Regions from separate parts of the Homo sapiens genome. Here region 2 is linked to region 1. Evidence: fine-mapped expression QTL. A gene starts in region 1. The other region holds a variant in brackets. All regions are shown on one strand. Distances are between the middles of the regions. Region 1 holds the start of CLPTM1 (CLPTM1 regulator of GABA type A receptor forward trafficking). Region 2 overlaps PPP1R37 (protein phosphatase 1 regulatory subunit 37).

The links.
Region 2: its variant is fine-mapped to the expression of CLPTM1 in whole blood (INTERVAL, PIP 0.91).

The regions. Positions count from the first base shown.
Region 1 is chr19:44,953,381-44,957,759 of GRCh38, forward strand. It overlaps CLPTM1 (CLPTM1 regulator of GABA type A receptor forward trafficking), which reads left to right and starts at 2,000. Exons shown (of 14, transcript NM_001294.4): 1 at 2,000-2,087. The coding sequence starts at 2,016. RefSeq lists a silencer at 1,923-2,252.
Region 2 is chr19:45,139,572-45,143,950 of GRCh38, forward strand. It overlaps PPP1R37 (protein phosphatase 1 regulatory subunit 37), which reads left to right. Exons shown (of 13, transcript NM_019121.2): 3 at 665-710; 4 at 935-1,035; 5 at 1,751-1,870; 6 at 2,490-2,640; 7 at 2,732-2,887; 8 at 3,950-4,062. Among named protein-coding and RNA genes, the nearest start is that of NKPD1, 19 kb to the right of the region's middle. The variant C/A (reference allele first, on the strand shown) is at 2,099.

The DNA of each region.
Region 1 (4,379 bases):
CTAATTTTTGTATTTTTAGTAGAGACGGGGTTTCACAATGTTGGCCAGGCTGGTCTTGAACTCCCGACCTCAGGTGATCCGCCTGCCTCGGCCTCCCAAAGTGCTGGGATTACAGGCGTGAGCCACCGCGCCTGGCTGAGGAGCGAAGTTTTCTAAGGTTCCTTCTTGTCCTGTGTTAGCCCTCAGAGAGGTAAGTCACTCACCTTCTGCACCTAGAGAGCCTCATCCCCAGGGCAATCATCCCCAGGGCAGTGCTGGAGATACAGCAGTGACCACAACAGTCCCAGGTCAGCCTGCCCAGTTGGGGAGACACACCCATCCCTGACAGTGATGACACAAAGTGAGCAGGGATGGGGTGGAGGAGCTGAGGGGGCAAGGGAGGATAGGAAAAGGGCTCAGAGAGAGTTTCCTAGAGCGAGAGCTACTGTTACAGGGCTGAGACCTAGAGGAAAGTGGAGGAAACCGATAATAAAATGATAATTATATATTCAGAATATCCCAATGCAAAGCTTACTCTTTTTCCAGGTAATATATAAGGTTCATAATCACAGCGCTCCAAATATTGACCACTTAAGCATGAGGCCCAGGGCCTGATGTTTTCCATTCGCCATCTAACTACGTCTTCCCAATAACACAGCGGGGCAAAACGGGAAGACGAAGAACGAGTACGATTATATCCCTGGTTTATAAAAGGGGAGAAACTGAGGCTCAAACATAGATGTCACTTGTCACCAGCCTGGCCAACACGGTGAAACTCCGTCTCTACTTACAAAAAAAAAAAAAAAATGGGAGGCTGACGCAGGAGAATTGCTTGAATCCGGGAGGCAGAGGTTGCAGTGAGCCGAGATCGCGCCACTGCACTCCAGCCTGGGTGACAGAGCGAGACTCCGTCTCAAAAAAAAAAAAAAAATTAGCCAGGAGTGGTGGCGTGCTCCTGTAATCCCAGCTACTCGGGAGGCCGAGGATGCAGTGAGCCGAGGTTGCAGTGAGCCGAGATCGCGCCATTGCACTCCAGCCTGGGGGAGAGTGAGGCTCCGTCTAAAAAAGAAAAAAAAAGAGAGAGAGAGACGTCACTTGTCCAGGATATCTTATCCAGTCAGTAGCACCACAAGGGTTAGAACCCTGGCCAGACATCCACCCAATTTCACGGGTGAACAGTTAACAGCCTCTGAGAGTCTTGTCCTCTCTGGGCCTCCGTAACACCCTCTCCAAACTAAGGGTCTCTCAGCAGATGGCCGGGTTTAGAGCTGTACGAAGACACACAGCTAATGAAAAATTGTGGAATTCTCAGAGCCCGTGAAGCCTAGCCCACGGATGCGAGGTTTGGACCACTGAGGGAACGCGCATGCGTGCTAGGCAGGGCAGTCCGAAGGCTTGGGGGTGTATCATAGGGTCTCATCGGAGGTTTGTTGGCCGTAAGACCCCTGGAATTGGAACTCTAAAAACACAGAAAGGATATGAGCTCAGGAGACTTGAACGAAAGAGTTGTCTTAGGAAGAGGGGTCAGAAGACAAGGGTGCTGGGCAAAAGGCTAGTTCTTCGAATCAGAATACGGTGGCCAGAAAGGTTCCTCTGACGAAAGAGGGGCGTGGTTCGAAGCCGTACAGTGGCCGGTAAAGCTCAAGAAACATGGAACGAAAAGGACGCGAAGAATCGGCAGGGAGAAGCGGACAGGATGTCCCGAAAGGCTCATATAACCGAAAAGGCGGGTTAATGTGAAGGGACGGAAGGGACAGAACTTGCGGGAGGCACATGCTGGCCGAGAAAGTCCTGGAGTTCGGAGCATACAGTGTTTTTATTAGGTGGAAACAAACGGGCTGGGAGAAAGACGAGTACGGTGGCCAGGTTGGTCCTTCCATAGCCGGAAGTGGCCTTCCTGAGAGGCGTGGCTGCGGCACTCTTGCCGGATAGGGTGGCCCGGCGGGGCTAGGAAAGCGTGAAATCTCGCGCGATTGCGCTGCGAAGTCGGGGACGGGGCGGGGCTGGCGGCGGGGGCGGGGACCCGGAGCGGGAAGATGGCGGCGGCGCAGGAGGCGGACGGGGCCCGCAGCGCCGTGGTGGCGGCCGGGGGAGGCAGCTCCGGTCAGGTACGGAGGCCGAGAGGGGACTGAGGGGGTTCTTCCCCAGCCGGGGGGCCTCCCACGGGGCGTGTCCTACCTCTTGTCACGGAATCCCGTGCACTGGGGGCTCCTTGGCCAGAGGGACCTTGAATACCCGGCCCAGGCAGGGCCGGACCGCCCGGGAGGCCGGACGGTGCCGGGAACAGGGCCCTGTTGCGGGTCGGTTCCCCTGCACGCTCGAGCCGGGCGGCCACCAGGCTCATTGCTCGATCCGGGGAGACAGTGGCTCGGAGGGGCGCAGGCTTGTACCTTGGCGCGCTGGGTTCTCAACTCCGCGATTCCATGCTCTGAGGCCGTTCCTAGAGTGGTCTGGCGTTCAGGTCTCGTTGTAGTGTTTGAGGTGTGCGCAGTGATTAATTGGGAGTTTTCTAGCTGTGGGGAAGTCAGTATTAGCAGGGCACGGCCGACAGACCCATTTTACAGACGGGAATTCAAGGAACAGTGAGACTAAGGCGCTTCTAGAAGGTCATCCTGGTTAGGTTTGTAACTTTATGTAGAAGTTACAAGACACTGCTGACACAGGGACTGGTATGGTTGTGGTTTTAATGTAAAATAGTTCTATGGGTTAATTAGTCCTGGTGCGGATGACTTCTGCCCCACTGCTGTCTTAACACACTGCAGAGCATACCATTTCAGGCAGCTACCGTTCAGGCATTTGGGGAATAGATGGAGAGACATGAAGGTGCTGTCGACCCACCCACTGGGATGTCACTGACATGTGGGAGGCAGCTCAGGGGAAAGGAGTGCGGGTTGAGAGGGGAGAATGAAGCTGACTCTCTGTGTGACCTTGGGCAAGTTCCTTTCCCTCTTTAGGCCTTTATCTCTCCCGTGTTAAATGCAGAGGTTGGACAGGAGGGCCAGCCATATCCCTGCTGTCAGGGGACGAAGAGAGGAGACTGACATGTAAACAGTTGTAATCCTGAATGATTAGGTTGGTGACAAAAGTCTGTGTCAGGGACTGGGGGAGCCCAGAGAAAGAGCAAGTGGTATCACTTGGGTAGGACACATGGATGAAATTTGTGTGATAGAGCCCACTGTATCTGCTCTGAATCTTTTCAGCATTCTCAGCCAGGGCCTGGCTTCAGGGACAGCTTAGGAAATGTTTGTTGAGTTAGTGCTGGAATGAAGGCTCAGTTCCTGTCTTCAAGGGTTTCCCAGTCTTGCTGAAAGGAGGTCGTTTCCCCTCTGGGTTTCTGTTGATTATTGGGTTGATGGTGGCTTGAGAGACCAGGGCCCAGGTTGTTCTCATTGCCCTGAGCTTCCAGATGGCACTCTGATCTTCTCTTGTACCAACTCTGCTTAAAAACAATCAAGAGTTACCCCTTTGCCTTTAGGACAAAGTACAAATTCTTTAATAAATCACAGTCTTGCACGATCCGACACTTTTCTTCAGACTAGACTAGGATTTCTCGAGCTCGGCACTATCAACATTTTGAATTGGATAATGCTTTGTTTGGGGGGCTGCCCTGTGCATTTTAGGATGTTTAGCAGCATCCGTGGCCTCTACGCACTAGATGTCAGTAGGATCCACGCCCCTCCCCAGTTGTGACAACCATATATGTCTCCAGACATTGCCAAATGTTCCAAGAGCAGGGGGGCAAAGCCATCCCTGCGTGAGAACAACTGCGCTAAAGGGGATCCGCTGCTCTGAACCTATTTTATTTCTAAACCTCTTTTATTGCCTCTCAGTCTCTTTCCTCATAGTCTATGCACAGGTCTCTCCCCTCTTTAGCTAGTTGATGTGTATTAGTCCTACAGATTTCAGATGTCCCTTCCTGCAGAAAGCCCTCTTTGACTGTCTGGGCTCCGCTGTCCCAGCCCTGCCCTACTGGGTTTCACTGTCTGGGGACTGGGAACCCCAGGAGGGCAGAGCCAGGACTGCCTTGATCACCACTGCTTCCTTAGCACCACTCAGCTCAGCGCCAGGCACAGAGGAGGTGCTCAGTGTTTGTGGAATGAGCGGATCTTGAAACAGAGGCTGGGCTGAGGTGGAATTCCCTGATGCCGTGGTGGATCCAGGTAATCAGTGAAGACATGCCGCAAAACCTAGCTTCCTCCTGCTCTTGCCTAGCCCTGGTGGTCTCAGCTACTTCTTGGACCCTTTAGCAGATGTTGCTGGGGATTGTGTGTGTGCGTGGACGTGCAGATCCGAGAGCAGGAACTGTGTCTTAGTCACTGATGTGTCCACAGCCACTGCCACCCTTCTCCCATGCCCAGGGCCTAGTGCACAGCAGGCACACCCTCTGCACAGTCTGCTGC
Region 2 (4,379 bases), 190 kb after region 1:
TGCTGGAAGCAACCACGCTCCTTGTCCATCAGTGTTCACTGGAGTTAGGGTAGGTTCTCTGGAACATTCCAGAAGAGGGGCTTGTCAGGTCCCAGGAAGGGTGGCTGCTCAGTGTGGCAGCTGAGAGGGTGGGTCCTTGGACCCCATCGGCCTGGTTCAGACCAGCCCTGCAGCACCCACCCTGCAGGTGATGTGTGTAAGCTCAGAGCGCGGGTGCTGGCATCTGCGGGACGGTGGGTTCTGACTGGGTGCTGGGCCCCAGGCCCTGCCTTCACCAAGAAGCCTCCTGTGCCCAGCCTTGCCATCTTCCCAGGCTCATTTCCTGCCTCACAGCCTTTGCACAGACTCCCTCCTCTGCTGGGACATACCCAGAGATGCTGGGCCCACTCCCTCACTCGGTCCCGCTGGGGCAGAGGGCTTCGCCCAGGCCTGCCTGGCTGCAGTGCTGGCTGGTCCTCAGTTGTGTGGGTGCAGAGTTCTCTCGCTGTCTAAGGCCCTGTACCCCAGGTTCCAGCTGGTGGGTGGCCTCTGAGCCTCTGTTCAGTGCCTTCGCCCAAACCCCACCCCAGAACCCTGCCTGACCTCAGGCATAGCAGCCATTTGGGGCCTCGGCTGCCCCCCTGTTCAAGTGTCTTCCTGCCTTAACCCCACTCTACTTTCTCAGGAATTCACAGACCTCGGGCACCGCCTCGACTGTCTGGACCTGAAAGGTGTGTGTCTGGCTAGGGGTTGAGAGCCCTTGGGTCATGGGCAGGTCGGGGGCTCCCTAGAGCTGGGTCTGAGGACCTGCCTGGGGTTAGCGGCTTCTGGAGCTGAGCTCAGCCAGGGCAGGGGCTGGGCCTGGTGGGGGGTGGGAGGTTGGGGGCAGAGGGCCCTTCCAGCCATGCAAAGGTGCACTGTCTTAGACATGCGCACGGCTGCTGTCTCCCCCCAGGTGAGAAGCTTGACTACAAGACCTGTGAGGCCCTGGAAGAGGTCTTCAAGAGGCTGCAGTTCAAGGTCGTGGACCTGGAGCAGACAAACCTGGATGAAGATGTGAGCGGCCCTGCCACCGCCCACTTGGCTCCCTGAGCTCCCGGGCCCCTTCGAGGTTTGGGTGGGGAGAGGACACTGCAGGAGGAGGGGGTCCCCTAGACAAAGGCTGAGGGGTGGCGCAAGGGCGGGGCCTCTTGCAGGGCAAGAGGGAGACATCCAATATGACCAGAGTGGATGTGGAGGGCGCGTTGGGGCACCTATGGCCCACCCTCATAAGCAAGGAGAGCCTTAGGGAGCTGGGCTGAGGGGCAGGCGTGTGGCCCCCAGGAGCCCTTTCAGGAACCACGCTGGAGGGTCCAGCTCCTACAGGGTGGGCTTGGGAAGCATTCTGAGAGCAGCCTCCCATCAAGGCCCAAGGGCCCTCACCTCCTCAGCCTTGGGAGTCCCCAGGCACCCCAGGTGTCGGGATCCAGGGGCAGGGGACCTGGAGAACTGAGGCCCAGGCTCAGGAACACCAAGGCCTGTCCTGGTCACTCAGCACGTCAGTCAAGGACTTTGGAGGGCAAGTGACAGAAAACAAAACTGACTACAGCAGAGAAGGAAAGGGTTTGTCCCCGTGGCTCACGGGGCCCTGTCTGTGCTTGTCCTCCTCTCCCGTGTGGCTCTCTCCAGACCCTGGACCCATCGTCTCTCGGTGGGGCCCGGTGTCAGGGCCCACGCCTCTCCTCCAGGGCAGCCCAGAGCTGAGGCTGAGCCCCCGAATCTCTATGCGCAGGGTGCCTCGGCCCTCTTCGACATGATCGAGTACTACGAGTCGGCCACCCACCTCAACATCTCCTTCAACAAGCACATCGGCACCCGGGGCTGGCAGGCGGCCGCCCACATGATGCGCAAGGTGGGCGCCTCTCGGCTTCCAGGAAGAGGCAGCTCAGGCTCCCAGCACGGGGAGGCACTTTCTCAGGGCATGGCCCGTAGGCTCTGACTGCATGAGCTCTTGAGTGTGGGCTGTTGTGGGGATGCTGGGCCTGGCCCTCAGGCCAGGAGAACAGGGCCGAGAGGTGTCCTGGCCCCCAGGCCCCCTGGCCCCTTCTCTCCTTGCGAGGCATTTCATGACCTCCAACTT[C/A]TCCCTTCCGTAATGTCATCCTTCTGTAATGTCATCCCCTTGGAGGTGGCCATGGTCGCCATCCCCACGTCACTCCTGTGTGAAGGCTGGGTGGAGGGACGGGACGGGGCTATCTGGTAACCTCCCAGCCACACAGGAGTTGGAGATCCTGGCTGCCACCAGCCCTGCCTCGCTCACCCACAGGACCCCAGGCTGAGCCTTCCCTCCCCAGCCACAGTTACCCCCATTGTAAAACAAGGCGACATAGCCAGACGACAGCTGTGGCTTCGTTGCTCATTGAGACATGGGGGCACAGGTCCTGGGGCCAGGGAGTGCTGGGGCGGTCCTGGGGCCAGGGAGTGCTGGGGCAGGCCTGAGCCAGTGCCTCACCCCTGTCCTCTTGCCCCTGCAGACGAGCTGCCTGCAGTATCTGGACGCCCGCAACACGCCCCTGCTGGACCACTCGGCGCCCTTCGTGGCCCGTGCCCTGCGCATCCGCAGCAGCCTGGCAGTGCTGCACTTGGAGAACGCCAGCCTGTCGGGGCGGCCCCTCATGCTGCTCGGTGAGCCCCAAGCCCGGGAGGGTGAGCAGGATGTGCAGCCTGTTGGGGGGCAGGGGCCTGCCCAGTCACCGTGCCCCCTCCCCGTCCCCAGCCACGGCCCTGAAGATGAACATGAACCTGCGGGAGCTGTACCTGGCGGACAACAAGCTCAACGGCCTGCAGGACTCGGCCCAGCTGGGTAACCTGCTCAAGTTCAACTGCTCCCTGCAGATCCTGGACCTCCGGAACAACCACGTGCTAGACTCGGGTGGGTGCAGTGGCCCACCCCACCCACACCCGTCACCCAGCACCCACTCTGCCCGGCCCTGCGCTAGGTGGTGCTGGGGACACAGACATGGCCAAGACCACCCCAACGCTGTCCTGCTGGGGCTCCCAGGAGGAAGACAGACCCGCCCTAGACAGTGACAACCTAGAGTGGGCAGGACTGGGCTGGTGGAGCCCAGAGGCGGGGTCCGATCAGTCTGGGGGCCAGGGAGGGCTTCCAGGAGGAGGAGACAGCTCAGCTGACAGCCGCAGGATGAGGCGAAGTGAATAATTACAATCTGAAAAGAAAGCAGTGTTGCTGCCATAACAGGGTCAGCTAGAGGCTGCTTTCAGATGGGAGAGGAGGGAAGACCACCGTGGGGCGGGGCCTCTGGGCTTCCATCCGGAGGCTGGGAGCAGAACCAGCCTTGTGAGAAGCCTGGGAAAGGGTCCAGACCGCGGGAGCAGTGAGTGCAGTGGGAGGAGCTCTGGTGTTTGATGCTGGGGGTTGAGCAGAGAATGGGGAGCCGTCAAAGGAGGCGTTCCTGTTGCATCCTGGAGGGGTGGGGTGGGTCACTGTGTCCCCAGGTGGCAGGCCCAGACCCCACTCTACTGAGCACCTGCCAAGGGCCATGGCTGTCGGCCCCTGGGCTCAGCTCGGAGGGAGACACAGGGCTCTGCCCTTGGGAGTTTGTACTCCAGTCTAGAGAGACAACGATAAGATGAGTGAAATCTCCAGCCTGTCAGATGGTGGGATCTGCATTGGAGGGAGACAGTGGTGACTGTGGGTGGGAGTGAGCTGGCTGTGAGGTGAGGTGGGCCAGAGGTGGTCACATTTGAGCAAAGATCAGAAGCATCTGGTGGAGGCTGTCATCCAGGCACCCAGGCCCAGGGGTCACAGATGTGTGCCCAGGGGTGCCAGGCCGAGGCAGGGCTGCAGGGCAAGGCCTGGGACTGCGGGGCCTCCATGGAGGTCCTAAGCAGAGGGGGTTGCTCCTACCCTGCAGTCCCCTCCCCAGGAAGCACCCGGACCCCAGACAGGGCTCTGACTGCCGGCCTCCTCCAGGTCTGGCCTACATCTGCGAGGGCCTCAAGGAGCAGAGGAAGGGGCTGGTGACCCTGGTGCTGTGGAACAACCAGCTCACGCACACAGGCATGGCCTTCCTGGGCATGACACTGGTGAGTCAGGCTGGCAGGGAAGGGAGGCACCTCGGTCCCCGCTGCCACCTCCCACTCCAGCTCTCAGCACAGTTGCCTCTAGCTGACGGCTCCTGTCCTGCCCATCCTGCAGGTTCAAGACGATTTAAACTCAGCCCCACCTGCTTCCTCATTCAGCTTCTGTGCCTGTTTTCCCTGAGGAGGAGCCCTTCTTTCATTATCTCCTTTTTTTTTTTGAGACCGAGTCTCATCCTGTCACCCAGGCTGGAGTGCAGTGGCGCCATCTAGGCTCACTGCAGCCACTCCAGCCCCCGCCTCCTGGGTTCAAGCCATTCTTC